Regions from separate parts of the Homo sapiens genome. Here region 2 is linked to region 1. The links come from fine-mapping of genetic effects on gene expression. A gene starts in region 1. The other region holds a variant in brackets. All regions are shown on one strand. Distances are from middle to middle. Region 1 holds the start of FRAT2 (FRAT regulator of Wnt signaling pathway 2). Region 2 overlaps RRP12 (ribosomal RNA processing 12 homolog).

Region 1 (8,320 bases):
CTGTGACCATCCACTACAAGGGGCTAGGGATATCCTAGCCAAAATCATTCCTGAGCTAAGAGTACTAGGAATGGGCTATCCCAAGCTGCAACACCTTGGAAATGCCCATTGCCTCGTAGACAGAGACACTTCCCCAGGCCCAGGCCCTCCACAGGCTTTGCAAATGGCTGGATCAGTAGCAAGAGTTGGGGTGAGAAGAGCGTACTGTGTGTAGGCTCAGACAGGTGACAAGGGTGTGTGAGAAGAGCATTGTGTGTAGGCTCAGACAGGGGGCAAGAGGACCAACTTAAGTGCCCTGAGTTCTGATTCTGCTCTACCACCAATAATTCCTTTCACCATTGTAAAAAGCAAAGTAGGGCCAGGCACGGTGGCTCACACCTGTAATCCCAGCACTTTGGGAGGCCAAGACAGGTGGATCACTTGAGGTTAGCAATTTGAGACCAGCCAGGGCAACACGGTGAAACCTCATCTCTGCTAAAAATACAAAAGTTAGCTGGGAGTGGTGGCGGGCACCTGTAATCCCAGCTACTTGGGAGGCTGAGGCAGGAGAATTGCTTGAACCCAGGAGGTGGAGGCTGCAGTGAGCCAAGATCATGCCACTGCACTCCAGCCTGGGGACAGAGCAAGACCACGTCTTAAAAAAAAAAAAATGCCAGGTGCCGTGGCTCATGCCTGTAATTCCAGCACTTTGGGAGGTCAAGGTAGGCGGATCACAAGGTCAGATCGAGACCATCCTGGCCAACATGGTAAAACCCCGTCTCTACTAAATATACAAAAATTAGCTGGGTGTGGTGGCATGCTCCTGTAGTCCCAGTTACTCGGGAGGCTGAGGCAGGAGAATCACTTGAACCCAGGAGAGGGAGGCTGCAGTGAGCTGAGATCACACCACTGCACTCTAGCCAGGCGACAGAGCGAGATTCCATCTCAAAAAAAAAAAAATCTTGTAAAAGGTGCCAACCAGGGTGCCTGCCCTAACAGGGATCAGCTCCATCTCTACCTAGGAAGTAGAGAAACACTCAGATCTTGTAGGTCTTTTCCCATTGTCTGTAGTCCTTATCTATAAGATGGAAAAATAGTGCCTACCTCGTGGCACATAAAGCCATGTGGTAGTACCAAGAATGAGCAGCTATCACTTTTTGAGCAATGAAGTCTCCCCTTCAAGTCCTCATTTAACCCTTCCAACTCCCCTATTAAGTACTATTGTTTTACAAATCACAAGGGAAAAACTCAGAGTCTTGACTTGCCCACCATGACACAGCTGGTGAGCAGAAAGGGCTGAGGCAACTGAGCATCAGCCTTCCTCTGCAGCCCCAGCCTCGGGAGTGTGCTGAGCAGGAGAGGTTCCCCGGGGGCTGGGTTAGTAGAGCTGGGCAAGGAAGGGGCAAGGCAGGGGCCAGGTGTGGTGGCTCACGCCTTTAATCCCAGCACCTTGGGAGGCCGAGGAGGGCAGATCACTTGAGCTCGAGTTCAAGACCAGCCTGGGCAACACAGTGAGAACCCATCTCTACTAAAAATATAAAAAATTAGCCTGGCATGGTGGTATGAGCCTGTAGTCCCAGCTACTCAGGAGGTTGAGGTGAGAGGACTGTTTGAGCCCAGGAGGTTGAGGCTGCAGTGAGCCAAGATCGTGCCACTGCACTCCAACCTGGGTTACAGAGTAAGACACCATCTCAAAATAATAAAATTAAATTAAAAAGAGAAAAGGGCAAGGCAGGAACTAGGAAGGGATTCAGCAAGGGCTCTATGCCTGGGAAGACAGGGCAGAGAGAGAATGAGGAGAGGAGGAGGGCTACTTCGGTCAAATCTAACCCCTGAGTGCTCAAACCAAGCCATTTTACAACTACCAAATACACTGCTGTAAAACCCTGTTTTTCTCTCCCAAGGCCATAGCTCAAGACTAGGTCAGTCTCAAAGGGGAAAGCAGGCTGGCTTCGCCTGTGCCCTCCCCATTTTGCACAAAAACGTCCAGATGAAAACCCACCTCCCTCCACCACAGCACCTCTTTGCTCTCCAGCCCAGAAAGCATTTCTAGAATACATTGTCTTTCCACAAAGGGAGTGGAAGCCCATCTTGCAGCTTCTAAAAACCTGGACTCAATTTTCTGATCTTGTGGAATAAAAACTTAGAAGCACTCAAGTCCTGTGGCTCTACTAGGATTCTGTGCCCATCAGCATTGGCCCAAACCATTTGTCCAGGTCCCCCCCCCCCGGTTTAGCCCAAGTGCCCTCTTTATTAAGGACATCCCCATATGCTTTTCTGCCCCTCTCCCACCTTCCACCAAAATGCCAAACCGTGCTCCAAAACAAAAGCCAAATTTATTCAGCAGACATTTTAATTATGAAATCCTATAAATCAGGACCACCACAATTTCAGACACTCCGTTGCGAAGTGTACATCAATAGCTACATCTGGAGGATGAACAAGCCATTGAATCTTTTAAAAATTGGTTTAGCTACCTTAAAGTTTGGGGGTGGCACCTTACAAAAGCGCCGTCAAGTTTCATACAGCCAGCGGCTTCTTCTCTGGGAGAGTCACATTTTAAAACCGGTTTCAGACACAAAAGAAGGGCTGGCACGGGAGGAGGAAATAAATTGTGAGGGTGAGGAGCCGCCGAGGCCGAGGCCCATGACTCCATGGAGGGCCAGAAGAGAGCAGAAAAACGTCCAGGGTCTCTCATGCATTCCTATAGACACCAGAAAGGGTGGAATAAGAAAGCTCAGCTGGGAGGACAAGAAAGAGACTCAAGAGATCGTTTATGACTGTTTCTGAGAAAGCTCCTGGCATGGCCATGAGTGGCCTTCCGGGAGTCCTGTAAAAAGGAAAGCACAGAAAACAGGAAAGAACTCTCCCTACACGTCCCTCTCTGCCTGTTTGTGTCCTCGGGAGACTCCAAGCGGTGGTAAAGCACCAACAGGGCTCTTCTTGGAGCAAGAGAAAGAAAAGACTCCGGGGTGAGTAAGCTCTCCCAGGAACCCCACAGCAAACCGTGACCTTGAACACAGATGGCAAGGTCAAGTCATTTACAAGTCCACATTCAAATCCAAATCTCCCACCTGCAAAATTCTTCACCTCTCTCCAGTCCCTTAATTGGAGTTCACATCTCCCACCTTCACCAGCCACCGAATCGGTGGGAAAAAGGGGCAATGCCAAGCCACCCACCACCAAACTTTTACATTCTTCTCCCCTCTGGAATTTCTTTGCACAGCAATTGTAGCACCACTTACTAAGCTCCTCCACCAGAAAATAAGAAAATGTATGCGTGTCGTTAGTTTTCAAGTATTGTTATAAAGCCATCGCGATTCCTACCCCTGAGCCCTCCTTAAACAATCCAAGCTCACGACGCCCCCAAGGGCTAAGTGAGGTACAAGTCGATGCAAGTAGCTGCCATAGTTCTCCCAGTTTATCCCAGGTCCTTGGGCTTGGATGGCCCGGGAAATTCTCATGCCCCACGGAAGCACCCTGGCGCATACATTTCTCCACGCTTAAGTTTTCTCCGACGGCCTCGCCGCGGCTGGTAACTTCTCTGGTTGAGATCTCTCCCCACGCGCCTCCCCGCAGCCAAAGTGGTCGCTCCCAGGCTGGCGACGTCGGCTTCAGCTCAGAGTTAGTAGGAACTGGACGCTGTTGGGTCTACGCAGCGGCCTCCACTTCCTCCTCCAGGAGGCCTGCGTCAGAGCAAGGAGCCTGAGGGCTGCAGGGCAATGCGGTCAGGTCCGCTGCGGCCTCCCCCGGGCCCAGGGGCGCTTGCGGGGCCCGTGGCTGCAACCGCGGCGACGGCTCGTTGGAGTCTCCGCACGGCTTCCTTGATGAGGTTTCCCGAGAGCACGAGCTGCTGGAGGAGCCGATGCGGGTCGTCGTCGCCGGCGCGTGCCCCGGCTTGGGTCCATCGGCGCTGCTGCAAGCGGCGGGAGGTGACCGCGTCCCTGAGCCATCCTCGCCGGCACGGCCCCGGCAGCGCGCTGGGGCCTGCGGCGACCTCCGCCACGCAGTAGGGCGCAGCGCGTCCGCGCACGCGGCCGCGGTCCCCTAGGGCGCAGCGCAGGGCCCCAGAGGGCGCCGGGCCCACCGTCTCAGCCGAAGCGGGCGGCAGCAGCAGCGGCACCGCCGGGGGCCGGGCCTTGTCCGCCGGCACCGCCGCAGCCAGGGGCCCCGGGGCCCGCAGCGGCACCCCCGGGGGCGCGCACGGCGAGGCCGGGCTGTCCTGCGCCGCGTCCAGCTGCAGCGTCTCGCCGATCTGGGCCACCAGCCGGTCCACCTCGCCCGAGCTGCCCAGCGTCACCGACTGCTGCAGCAGGAGGAAGCTGTCGTCCTCCTCTTCCTCCCCCTCCGCCTCCTCGCCGGCTTCCTCTTCCTCCTCCCTCCGGCACGGCATGGCCCCCCGTCCTGGCACCCGGAGCTGTGCGGGCTTCGCTGGGGGCTTGGTTGCCCGCGGGCGCGGAGCTGCGGGCGAAGCCGGAGCAGGGGCGGACGCGGAAGCCGGAGCCCGCCAGGCACTCGAGCCACGCGCCTGCAGCCGCTGGAGCCGGAATCCTGCCGGCTCGGGTTGATTTGTAAACAATGGGTGACGTCGCGCCGGGCCCTACCACCGCACCGGGGCGGGGGTGACGCGCGAGCAGGCACGGGGGCAAAGGGCGGCGCGGGCGGTGACCGAAGCCGTCCCGCGCCTGTGTTCGTTGTCCCTCCAGGAGGGGGTCCGGGGCGTGGGGACTGATTTCCGACCTCCCGGGCCCAACGAGCCGTGCTGAAACGTGGCGCCTCGGAGGAGGCTGAGGTTGGTTTCTCCCACGCACGGACACACCCACACCCACTCCGGGCCCGCCTCCTGGGCCGCGGCCTCCCTCCCCACGTGTCGGCCGCGCCTAAGCCCGCCCGACTCCCGCCCCGCGCACCCGCAGTTCCCGGCCCTGGTCGTGGGGGAGGGGCGGGCCGCCGCGGGTCCGGCTTCGACGAGGCGGGGCGGGGAAAGGCGGAGGGAATTGGGAGTGAAGAGGCGGCACGTTACTTATTTACTTATTTATTATTTAGAAAAGGTCTCTGTCGCCCAGGCTGAAGTATAGTGGCGCGAACACGGCTGACTGCAGCCTCGAACTCTGGCTTAAGTAATCATCCCACTTTAAGCCTCCGGAGCAGCTGGGACCACAGGCGCGGCCACCACGCCTGGCTAATTAAAAAAATTTTTTTTGTAGAGACGGTGGTGGGGGGGGGGGGTCTCACTATATTGCCCAGGCTGGTCTCGAACTCTTGGGCTCAAGGAGTCCTCGCTCCTCGGCCTCCGAAAGTGTTGGGGTTACTGGCGTCAGCCGCCGCGCCCGGCCTAAGAGGGGACGCTTTGAAGCAGAGCAGAATCGCTCTGAGGTGAGGTCCCAGAGGCTTTCCCTCCCGCAGTCTTCAAGCCCCCGGACATATCATGAGAATAGGACTCACCGCCGCTCGGCTAAAGAAGGGTCTTTTTTTTTTTTTAAGGTTCAAATAGAAATATAGGGGATTGGCCAGGAGCGGTGGGTGGCTCATGCCTGTGATCCCAACACTTTGGGAGGCCGAGGCGGGCGGATCACCTGAGGTCAGGAGTTCCAGACCAGTCTGGCCAACATGGTGAAACCCCATCTCTGCTAAAAATACAAAAATTAGCCGGGCGTGGTGGCGGGCGCCTGTAATCCCAGCTACTCGGGAGACTGAGGCAGGAGAATGGTTTGAACCCTGGAGGCGGAGGTTGCAGTGAGCCGAGATCACGCCACTGCACTCCAGCCTGGGCAACAAAGCGAGACTCCGTCTCAAAAAAAAAAAGAAAAATATAAGGGATGGAAAAAATCTCTCATGGTTCACATTTAAATTTTTTTCCTTTTTAGCCTTTGTTCTATGAAAGTGTAGTATACAAACACATGCATACAGTGTTACACACTTTTCCACTTTGCCTTACATCATAAACGTTTTTCGTGTTATTGCATGCACTTTGAAAACATTTTAATGATTACATAAGTTTCCATCAAGTGCCTATGTTTTTAACATTTGCCTAATTTCACCATCGTTAAGTGTGTAACTAACATTTTTGTGCGCGACACTTTAAGATATTGATGATTCTTTCCTTAGGGCATATTCCCAGGAGTGGAATTTTAAGTCACAGTAGTTGGGTATTTTAAGGTTTACTGATAAATGTTCAGGAAGTGTCTTTCCAAGAGTTAGGTAAATGTACTCTACCATCATTAATGCTTGAGCATACATCATTACACCTTCACTAGTATTTGAGTATTATTGAATTTTTTTTTTTTTGCGGATTATATAGGGAAATTTTCTCCCTTCAGTTTGCATATCTTTGATTTCAGTTAGGTAGAGCAGTTTTCTAAATGTTTGTTAACAAACTGTACTTCCTTTCTTATGAATTGTCTATTTCCTAATAAGATTTTCCTAGGGAGTGTTTCTTACGTATTTGCATGACTCCTTTACATACCAAATGTTAACCCTTTTCATATTTTGCCGCAAATACGTCTCCAGGCTTTTGTTGGCTCTGTACAGTCATTTTTTCCCCCACTAAAACCAAATTTTCATGTAGGCAAATTTTAAAATCTCTTTGAAATTTCTAACACGATGCTAAATTTGGAGTCTCCTTGCTGCCAGAAAGTTATTAAATATTCCATTCTATTTTCTTTAGATTTTTCAAATGCCTTGATTTTTTTTTCAAATCCATCTGGGATTAATGTTGGTCTTTGTTTCAAGGAGATGACATGAAATTAATTTTTTCCTGGAGAGCTTGCCAGCCAAAGGTGTGTTTCTTCACTAGGACAGAGGTGTGAGGGTAGCATAAACACAAGCTGTCTGGTGAGTTTCCAGTTGCTGGTTAAGCTGGTGGTTGTGAGGAGTGGGTGGGGCTGGGAATGTTTTGATCAGTCTGTTGTGTGAAGTCAAAAGAACCCAGAACAGGTTGTACAAAGACCTAGATCCAAGTCTCATTCCTGCCACATCCTGGGTGTGGGACTCCAGGCAAATCAGTTTACAAGTGTTTTCACTTGTAAATAGGAGAAATAATCCCTGCCTGGCCTCCCTCTGAGGATTGTTTTCAGGATCAAATAAGATAATGGGAACGGGTGTTGTCAGGCATTACACAAATGTAGGATTAGGTCCAGCGGTTTACTAACAGAGGTCTGGCTCAATTCCAGCGAGTCCCCCCTGGGGAGCATTTAACATAATAATGTTGAAGATCCCCCCCATGCAGCCCACTAGGTGAAACGTACCCTGAGGGTATTACTTCTGTGCACTTGCCAGGTTTCTTAAATTCTGCCTCAGGTCTACCCTGACCTGGGATTGTGTAGGGCTTTACTGAAGTCAGCCCGGAGGCTCCCATGCCCCACAGTGAGTCTCCGCAACTAGTTCTGCAGGTTTGAGTGATGGAGACTTTCCCAGTGGGCAGCCTCCCACCTCCATCTCCCGAGGGCTGTTCACACACTTTACTGATGAGGACTGGAAGCCATTCCCCCCGGAGAGACTGATTCTCATTTTCATTCCGATGGTACTTACTGGAGAATTTCGAGAGGAATGAAAATTAGGGGAGGGCTTACGGATTTCAGTAGAGTTAAAATGGTAATGTTTTCCTCCTTTCTGTATGATGATGCCTGGCTGTAAGTAGAGAAAAGCAGTTTTATGCTCCATTGATTTTAAACATTAATGGGTCTGGTTTAACTATTGTCTCTCACCCAGCATCCCTGGAAGTTGTTTTTGTTTTCCTGTCAGGGTAATTCCAATAGTGTTCTTCGTACTATAGGAAATGGAGCTTTGAGATGGCATTCTTTAAAAAAAAAAAATCTTCCCTTTGTAATGTTGCTTTTGTGTGAAGATTGCTATGTAAATATGCTGGGACTTGGATATTATACTATTCATTACAGAGATGAATTCATTACAGAAGACCAGCTCCATTTTCTGGGGGCACCTCTCTGGAGAGCTCTGAGAGAGAGAAGTGCTGTGCTGGACCAGTGGGAGGCAGAGAAATGCCCTGGATTAGGAAGCAAAATACAAGATGCTAGAAAGACTCAGATGCAATTAAAAGTAATGAGACGGTATCAAAAAGGGAAGCGATGAGAACTTGTGAGCCCAGCACACTGGCTCCCTGCCTGGAAAGACACACTCTCGGACAGCATTCACAATCGCCCAGGGAAGAACAGAATTCAAGGGTTTTCTGCATTCACTTAGATTGCGTTGAAATTCTCTGCAAGGAGTTTGCTTTCCACACAGACCTTGTTTCAAGTTACCTGCCCTCAGAGACATTAGCTACAGTACAGTGGGATGAACACTAGGCTTGGGAATACCACCTGGATGGGGTCACTTTATCCTT
Region 2 (8,320 bases), 36 kb after region 1:
AGAGTGCTCCCAGGAGAGGCGGGGGTCAGCGGGTATTGCCTGGGCAGGCCCTTGGGTTGGGGGGACACCGGGTCCCATGGCCCTAACATGGTCTCACCTGTCACCTTTGCCCTGGGCGGGCTCCTCCTCCTCCTCCTCCTCTTCTTCCTCCTCCACGGCAGCCTGGCTCAGGGCTCGGTGCCTCTTGGCCCGGGCCTCAGCTTTCCGGATGTTGACCAGGACTCTGTGGTACTCCTCGGGCAACAGCCTTTTCACCAGCTCAAATCTGGAGGTGGCAAGGAAGGGCTGGTGAGAGGCACTGGCCAGACAGCACGACCCAGATGTAGTGTCCCTGGTAGGACTGGAAATCCTCGGCCCCTCGCTTGCCCTACCCCCGCCCCTGCTCAGTGCACAGACCCAAACTTGCGGATGAACTTGGTGAACAGGTTCCGAAGCTTCATGCGGAAGTGCCGCCGCATGTCATCTGAAAGCTTCCCAATGGCTTCCATCTGCCGGACAGAGCACCAGGCTTTCAGGGAGGCGAGCCTTCCATGCTGCGCCCCCTTTACTGCTGTCCAGCCCAGGGACGCAGCATGATCAAGCCCAGCTGAGGGGAGGGTTAGCGCGGCCCTGCTCCTGGCCCACACCCTGGCCCAGTCATGCTTCCCTCGGGTGGGCAGGCCCCATCTTTCCCCTGCACCCTCCTTCAGGACACAGGCCTGAGCACCCTCGCAGGATGAGAGCTTTAGTCTTCTCAACAGCACTTGGTACTTGACATATATCCTCTCCTTGAATCCTTGGACTACCCCTGAGATACATGCTATCACCCCCTATTTATAGAAGAGGACACGGCGGCACAGAGGATAAAGTGTTTGCTAAATGGCCATAGAGGTGGGAGTTCAGCCCAGACTCATCTAATGCTGCGGCTCCCGCTTTGCCCCTAGCACCCCAAGATTTCTCTTGGTCCCCTATGTCCCTTCCATCTCACTGCATTCTGCTCTGGCTGGATTCCTCTTAAGCCTTCATCTGGCCCAGTTTGGGTTACATGTGCAGGTGGCAGATCTTCTTATCTCCAGTGACTCCCAAACCGGCTAGGGGATAGGGTCCACGTCTACTCCTTTTTTTTGAGATGGAGTCTCGCTCTGTTGCCCAGGCTGGAGTGCAATGGCACGATCTCAGCTCACTGCAACCTCCACCTCCTGGGTTCAAGCAATTCTCCTGCCTCAGCTTCCTGAATAGCTGGGATTACAGGTGCCTGCTATCACGCCTGGCTAATTTTTGTATTTTTAGTACAGACAGGGTTTTACCATACTGGCCAGGCTGGTCTTGAACTCCCAACCTCAGGCGATCCGCCCACCTTGGCCTCCCAAAGTACTGGGATTACAGGTGTGAGCCACTGTGCCTGGCTTTTTTTTTTTTTTTTTTGAGACAGAGTCTTGCTCTGTCACCCTGGCTGGAGTGCAATGGCATGGTCTCGGATCACTGCAACCTCCGCCTCCCAGGTTCAAGCAATTCTCACACCTCAGCCACATGAACAGCTGGGACTACAGGCGCGCACCACCATGCCTGGCTAATTTTTGTATTTTTTAGTAGAGATGGGGCTTCACCATGTTGGCCAGGCTGGTCTCGAATTCCTGACCTCAAGTGATCCACCCACCTTGGCATCCCAAAGTGCTAGGAATATAGGTGTGAGCCACCGCTCCTGGCCTCCCCAACCACTCTTGGAAGGGCTTCTATAAATCCCTTTTTTTTGAGACAGAGTCTTGCTCTGTTACCCAGGCTGGAGTGTAGTGGTGCAATCTTGGCTCACTGCAACATCCGCCTCCCAGGTTCAAGTGATTCTCCTGCCTCAGCCTCCCGAGTAGCTGGGATTGCAGGCACCTGCCACCTCGCCCAGCTAATTTTTGTATTTTTAGTAGAGATGGGGTTTCACCATGTTGGCCAGGCTGGTCTCAAACTCCTGAACTCAAGTGATCTGCCTGCCTTGGCCTCCCAAAGTGGTGGGGTTACAGGTGTGAGCCACTGCAGCCGGCCAGGGCTTGTATAAATTCGAATAACTCCATGATGGATCACTGCTCTAGCTGTTCTCCCCACCTTTGGTCCCTAGTAGGCTGCAGGCTCCGAGGGCAGCGGGAGGGCATGCTGATTCTCATCTGTCCCTTCCTATCTTGAACCCAAGGCCAGACCCAAAGAAAATATGCAAGAGGGACCCAGAGGTCTGATGTGACTCAAGCCAGTCACACATGGGAAACTGAGGCAGTAGGTACAGTGCACAGCTTGGCTGGAAGCCTACGCCAGCCTGGGCAAGGCTTCTCTTGGGCAGGAGAGGGCCAGGGACCCTATACCAAGGGGCTCTTCAGATCCTTCTGCAGCCCAGCAGGGGACCCAAAGGAATGGCCTCTAACCAGCAAGGTCAAAATGCAAGATGGGAAAAAAAAAAAGGCAAGATGAGGGGGTCCTGTGGAGGGAGAGCCCAGCGTCTGAGTCCCATGATCTGGAAAATCTCTGGCCCAGTTTCTCCATCTGTAAAATGAGGAGTGGCCCTGCCCATGGGCCTTTGCCCTGAAGAGCCCCTGTTGCTTTCCATGTAGGGCTCTGGGGTGAAGAAAGCCACCTGGGCAGTGTGCCCCCTCCTCGCCTCCACCTGACAGGCATTCCCCTATGGTCCCTTTTAGGGCTCCTTAATGACCTCTGGCTACAAAAAAAATAGTTTGAAACTTGCTGGCCTCGAAGCTTGCCAGGTCCATGCCAACAGCTCAGAGGCCACCCTGCTACCTGCTAAGGGGAACGGGGACACTCACCACCAGCTGCACATGTTTGGCCAGGTGCGCCACGTCCATGACAGTCACTGCCACCTTGATGAAGCCCAGTGCAGACTTGACCACGTCACGGGTGCGGGAGGCCAGAAGCAGGCACACATTCTCCAGCAGCTGCTCCACTGTACTGGTCCCCATCAGACCTGTGGCAGTGAGGGGGTCACTGTCTAAGACACCCAGGACCCCACTCAGACCCAAACCTTCCCCACTGGAAAACAGCCACTCAAGTGTCAGTAAAAGCTGACATTGAGAGCCTTTCCGTATGCCCGGGATGGTTCCAATCACGCTCCATGGAGTGGTCTTGGGTCCTTTCGTCACCCTGAGGTGGGTGCTATTTCTTGCTTCCATTTTAGAGATAAGAAACTGAGGTGCTAAGAGGCTAATCAAGCTGTTCTAGGTCTCATGTGGTTGCCAAGAGGCAGGACTAGGACTAAAATCCAGGCATCAGCCCTAACCACCTCCTAACCACTCTGACAATGGGATGCAGGGCCACTGGACTGCACAGTCACACGTGGGGACAGACCTGAGGAAGGTGCCTTGGCATAGCCGCAAGGGCGGGAGGCAGCGACCCGCAGGAAGGGAGACAGGGAGGCAAACTGGGCTGGGTGTGGCTTTTCTTACTTCCTCCAGGCACCTTTTCCCAGTTCCAGGAGCCACTTTATCCTGACCTTTTGGGCATCTTCCTAATCTGAGGGCTTCTCAGGCCTTCTAGGAAATAAGCATTTACCTTTAAACTCGAAAAGGAGGTGGGTCAGGGCCAGGATGCTGCAGCTGACCATGGTCACCGCGCCCACCAGGCCAGGGTAGATCAGGACGAGGTAGCACTGCAGGGCCTCTGGGGACAGAGACCAACGTGGGTCAAGCAGGAAGGACCCACCAGGTAGGGGGGCTGAGGGCCAGAGAGGAGCAGCCTGCCCAGGGCCAGGGCACAGAGCTCTCCCCACCTTTTTTGAGGGGTGCTTCCCCCCACCCAGTCTATGAGCAGAGTGTCCACCCCCAGCCCCCTGGGCCTCACCTTCCTGGTTCGAGCCAAACCTTAGGAAAGCATGGCCCATCTCCACGAGCAGTGCAAAAGCGTTCTTCCGTGCGCCCACCGACACCTCCTTGGTGCACAGGATCACCTGGCCAAGACAACTCCATCAGCATCTGCTCCCTGAGCCATCTGCCCGGGAAGCGAATCGAGTCCTCCCACTCCCATCACTGCCCTCCCTGGATCCTGAGGCCCTTAAGAGCCACATTCCAGGGACCCCCCTCTAAAACACACCCGCACACTCACCTCTGGGATGAGGGCAGTGATGAACTCCTTGTGTTCAGCTGAGAGCTTCCTCACGATGTGTAGGAGGCACTTCAAACGGGGCTGTGGGCAAAGGGCTACCAGTCAGGACCCCTCAATGCTACCTCCACCCAACAAGCCTCAACAGTGGCTCCTTTCCTGGTGTTGCCCAGGCTCCCTCGGCAGAGCGGGTGGCCCTAGAGCCCTCACCCTCTTGGCGGGTGAGGAGGTGCTCCGCAGCGAGTCCAGCAGTGTCTTCTTCAGGTCCTCCAGGTGGCTCTGCACGAAGAGGGCCCCGGGGCCCTGAGGACTGGCACACACCTCCTCCAGCACTCGGTAGGCCTTCTTCTGCACCCCGTGGGCCTTGCTCTGGCAGACAGGAACCGGTGAGGGAGGCCTGGGGCTCACTCCCTGTCC[A/G]ATGCTATCCACGGAGCATCCCCCAGCACTGGAGGGATTCTGAGCAGGGGTCCGTGGGGGCTCATGTGGCTTGACAGAGGACCAGTGGAATGTGGACAGCGAGTGGCTAACTCCTGGGCGAGGCACAGGGGTTGGGGGTGTGTGCCGTGGGGCCCACCAATCCACTCCACTCACCCAGCTCTGGACAGTGCTCACTCCAGTGGCCTGAGCTCATGGTGCCTGGCACGCGCCAAGGCCTGCACATCTGCTGCTCTTTCTAGCCGGAGCACTCTTCTCTCTCCTTCCAAGACTGACAACTCCTTGCTCCTCCAAACCAGCTCTCTGTCACACTCCCCCAACCCCCAACGCCGGACACCTTTCCTGAGGTGACGTGGCCTGGCCCTGGATTTCCATGTCCACCTGCAGTGCTGCCCCAGAGCACTTCTCACACTGTTAGGTAACTGCTACTAAACTGTGGCAATGGGGGCAGCTTTCAGGGGGTCACTGCTGGGCTGAGATCTGCAGGGTTGCTGGCCACAGCAGAGGGCATTTCAAGCTGAGGACCCAAACCCTGCAAAGGCACAGACAGGGCCTGTTATATCAGGGAGGCTTAAGGCAGCTGAAGGAGGCTGCAGCAGAAGTAGAGAGTGGACTGGGTGGGATAAAGCTCAGGCCGGTCTGGGATGGGCCTGGGGAGTGAGCCAGGCAAAGGAGCATGGCCTTGGTTCTACAAGAGTCACTCAGCACGCAAGGCCTAAGCACAGCTGTGCATTTCAGTCCCTTTGGGACCTGCAAGACAGATGGGCTACACAGGACACAAAGAGAAGCCACTGCAGGAGAAAGCAGACAGGGACCTGATCTCGGGAAGCAGCAAGGGACAAAGACATGAAGACAGGCCCCACCTTCCCACAGCCCATCTGCCCCCAAGCGTGGCTGTGTGGCGCTCCTGGCCCCCGAGGCTCACCTCTAGGTAGGGCCGGATGGTGGAGTATAGCTTACTGATGGCAGCTTCGTCAGCACACGGAGCCAAGGCCACGACCAGGTCCAGGACAGACAATCTGCTCGGGGCAGGAGGACAAGGAGAGGGATGGGGAGCTGGAGAAGGGCGCAGACTACCAGTGTTCTTACGTCTACTGGGTATGGGGAGGTGGGAGAAGTCAGGGTGAGGACAAGGGGCTTGAAGGAGCTCATGAACAATAATAATAGCTAGTACCTAACTGAGCATTCATGATGTACCAGTCACCGTTCCTGGTGTTTTACACCTGCTAACTCCTTCAATCCTCATAGCAACCTTGTTGCAAGAACTATTATCGTGCCCATTTTACAGATGAGGCCTTAGAGGCAGAATGGATAAGTAATTTGTCCAAGGTCACACAGCCCATGAGTGACGGGGCTGGGATCAGAACCTGGGCAGTGTATCTCCTGGGTCCTTGTTCCTCCCTACCAGACTAAATGGCCTCTCCAGGAAGAAGGAACTAGTCAGCACAGCCTCTCAGCACAGCCTGGAGAGTTAATACTTCAAGGCTTCCTTAAATAATGCAAGAGGGAACCCACAGTGCTTCTGCCAGATGCACCCTCCAGCTCCCTGGGCTGCTCCAGCTCAAGTGGGAGGCCCTGAGCATGTTACCTGGTAAAGTCAGAGCTGGCAGGGTCGAGCACCTTCTCACTGGCTTTTTCCAGGAGACTGTTCACCAACTTGTGGCCCCGAGGGAATGAGGAGAAGAGAGTCATTGGGGAGGAGCGAAAGAAAGCAGCAATGGCAGCAGTCCCAGAGCGGCCTCCCCATCAGCCCCCAGCCCTGCCCAAGCCATGACTGCTGGTATGTGCTCCAAAACACAGAGACCCACGTGAGCCCTGGTGGGTAGGGTCTCGGCCTCTCTGACCCTGCCCACCTGAGAGCTCCCCTCCTCCCTCCTTCCCTCCCTTCCGTGGCTCACCTGAGTGTCAGTGATGGTGAGGTAAGTTCTGATGGTTTCCAGCACAGCCCGGCGAGGGGCTGGAGTGTCCCCGGCTGCCACGGGCTGCCCATACAGGTTGAAGAGGATCGGCAGAAAGTTCTTGGCAAAGCGACTCACTTCAGCACGGTCAGCCTCTGGTAAAAGGATCAAAGTTTGCACTAAAGGCACAGGAGCTGACTGTGCCTCAGTGGCTGCTGGGGCTGTGGCCCAGAGGCCCTCTCTTGGGGGAGCTGGCAGGACTTGGAATCCATGGGTTTGGGGCTCTCTGTGGCAGAAGCTGAGCCAGGGCATGGAGAGCCTGGTGCCCCAGTGGCCCATGGTCCTCGATGGCTCCAACCCCAGGGAGCCAGCAAAGTTATCCCCTGGGGTCTGCAGCAGAAGCAGCAAAGGATGAGCTCCAGAGGTGAGTTTCTGTGGCTCTGCCTGGCAAGGAGTGTAGCAAGCCAGGGGATGGGGCCAGGGACCTGTGTCATCCTCCCCAGCCCCCACTCCCACAGCCCACACGTACCTGCCTGGCAGCCCTTGGTGATGAGGGTGCGCAGGGCCTGGCACACGGTGACCCTCAGGTCTGGACGCTCGCTGATGGCCATGCCCAGCGTCCGTGCCAGCCCTTTGAAGGAGATGGCCACATCTGTAGGCCTTGTGCAGAACCCAGGCAGGAGTGTCCACATCTGGAGAAGGAGGGGACAATAAAGGAAGGTGACACGCAGCCACCTGTGCCCCTGTGTGCTTCTCCCCACGCCCTCCCCCAGCTGACCCTTACCTGCCACTGGAGTGTGTCGTAGATCTTAGATTCCACTGTGCTGCCTGCCTGAGCCAGGTCCATGGCTGCAGTGTGACAGAGGGACAGAGTGTGAGCCCAGCACCCTCCTGGCCAACAGCCTTATTTACCAAACCAAACCAAAAGCCCAATGATGAGGACAGGAATATGGGTGACTTCCCCCCATCTCCATGAATTAAATCATACTTGTTCATTCTAAAATACTCAAATGAACCTATAATAAACAGAAAGCAAACGTCTCTCCATACTCTTACTCCCCCAGAGATAGCCTCTGTTTCTTGTTACTTTTTTATACTTCTTTAAACACATGCCCAATTTTTTTTGTTTGTTTGTTTTGTTTGAGACAGGGTCTCACTTTGTGGCCTAGGCTGGAATACAGTGGCGCAATCTGGGCTCACTGCAGCCTTGACCTCCCAGGCTCACGCGATCCTCCTACCTCAGCCTCCCAAGAAGCAGACTACAGGCGTGCATGCCACCACACCCACCTAACTTTTTGTAGACGTAGGGTTTCACCATGTTGCCCAGACTGGTCTCGAATTCCTAAGTTTGAGCGATCCATGTGCCTCGGCCTCCCAAAGTGCTGGGATTACAGGTGTGCAACACTGCACCCAGCCACATGCCCACTTTGTAAAACATAAACAGGGGCTGGGTGCAGTGGCTCACACCTGTAATCCCAGCACTTTGGGAGGCTGAGGCGGGCAGATCATGAGGTCAGGAGATTGAGACCATCCTGGCTAACATGGTGAAACCCCGTCTCTACTAAAAATACAAAAAATTAGCCGGGAGTGGTGGCAGGCACCTGTAGTCCCAGCTACTCGGGAGGCTGAGGCAGGAGAATGGAGTGAACCCGGGAGGTGGAGCTTGCAGTGAGCCGAGATCGTGCTATTGCACAACAGCCTGGGTGACGGAGCGAGACTCTGTCTCAAAAAAAAAAAAAAAAAACCATAGGGAGGAATATACTATATATATAGCATTCTGTAACCTTGTTTACTTGACAATAAAGCTGGTAACATTTACTGAGCAAGTACTATGTGGTAGTCTGTAATGAGCACTTCACATGACTTTTTCATTTAATCCTCACAAAACTTGCCCATTTTAAGATGAGGAGCAGACCCTG

What was found.
Region 2: its variant is fine-mapped to the expression of FRAT2 in whole blood (TOPMed, PIP 0.95).

What each region holds. Positions count from the first base shown.
Region 1 is chr10:97,330,201-97,338,520 of GRCh38, forward strand. It overlaps FRAT2 (FRAT regulator of Wnt signaling pathway 2), which reads right to left and starts at 4,529. Exons shown (of 1, transcript NM_012083.3): 1 at 2,297-4,529. The coding sequence starts at 4,372. The coding sequence ends at 3,671. It overlaps LOC105378448 (a long non-coding RNA gene), which reads left to right and starts at 4,646. Exons shown (of 2, transcript NR_188201.1): 1 at 4,646-4,771. RefSeq lists enhancers at 3,240-4,147, 6,685-7,203 and silencers at 3,698-3,747, 3,758-3,887, 4,228-4,377, 4,468-4,617, 4,748-5,097.
Region 2 is chr10:97,366,645-97,374,964 of GRCh38, forward strand. It overlaps RRP12 (ribosomal RNA processing 12 homolog), which reads right to left. Exons shown (of 34, transcript NM_015179.4): 16 at 7,186-7,250; 17 at 6,931-7,093; 18 at 6,402-6,556; 19 at 6,092-6,159; 20 at 5,429-5,522; 21 at 4,279-4,437; 22 at 4,072-4,152; 23 at 3,811-3,916; 24 at 3,523-3,630; 25 at 2,781-2,938; 26 at 397-488; 27 at 98-265. Among named protein-coding and RNA genes, the nearest start is that of RRP12, 31 kb to the right of the region's middle. The variant A/G (reference allele first, on the strand shown) is at 4,486.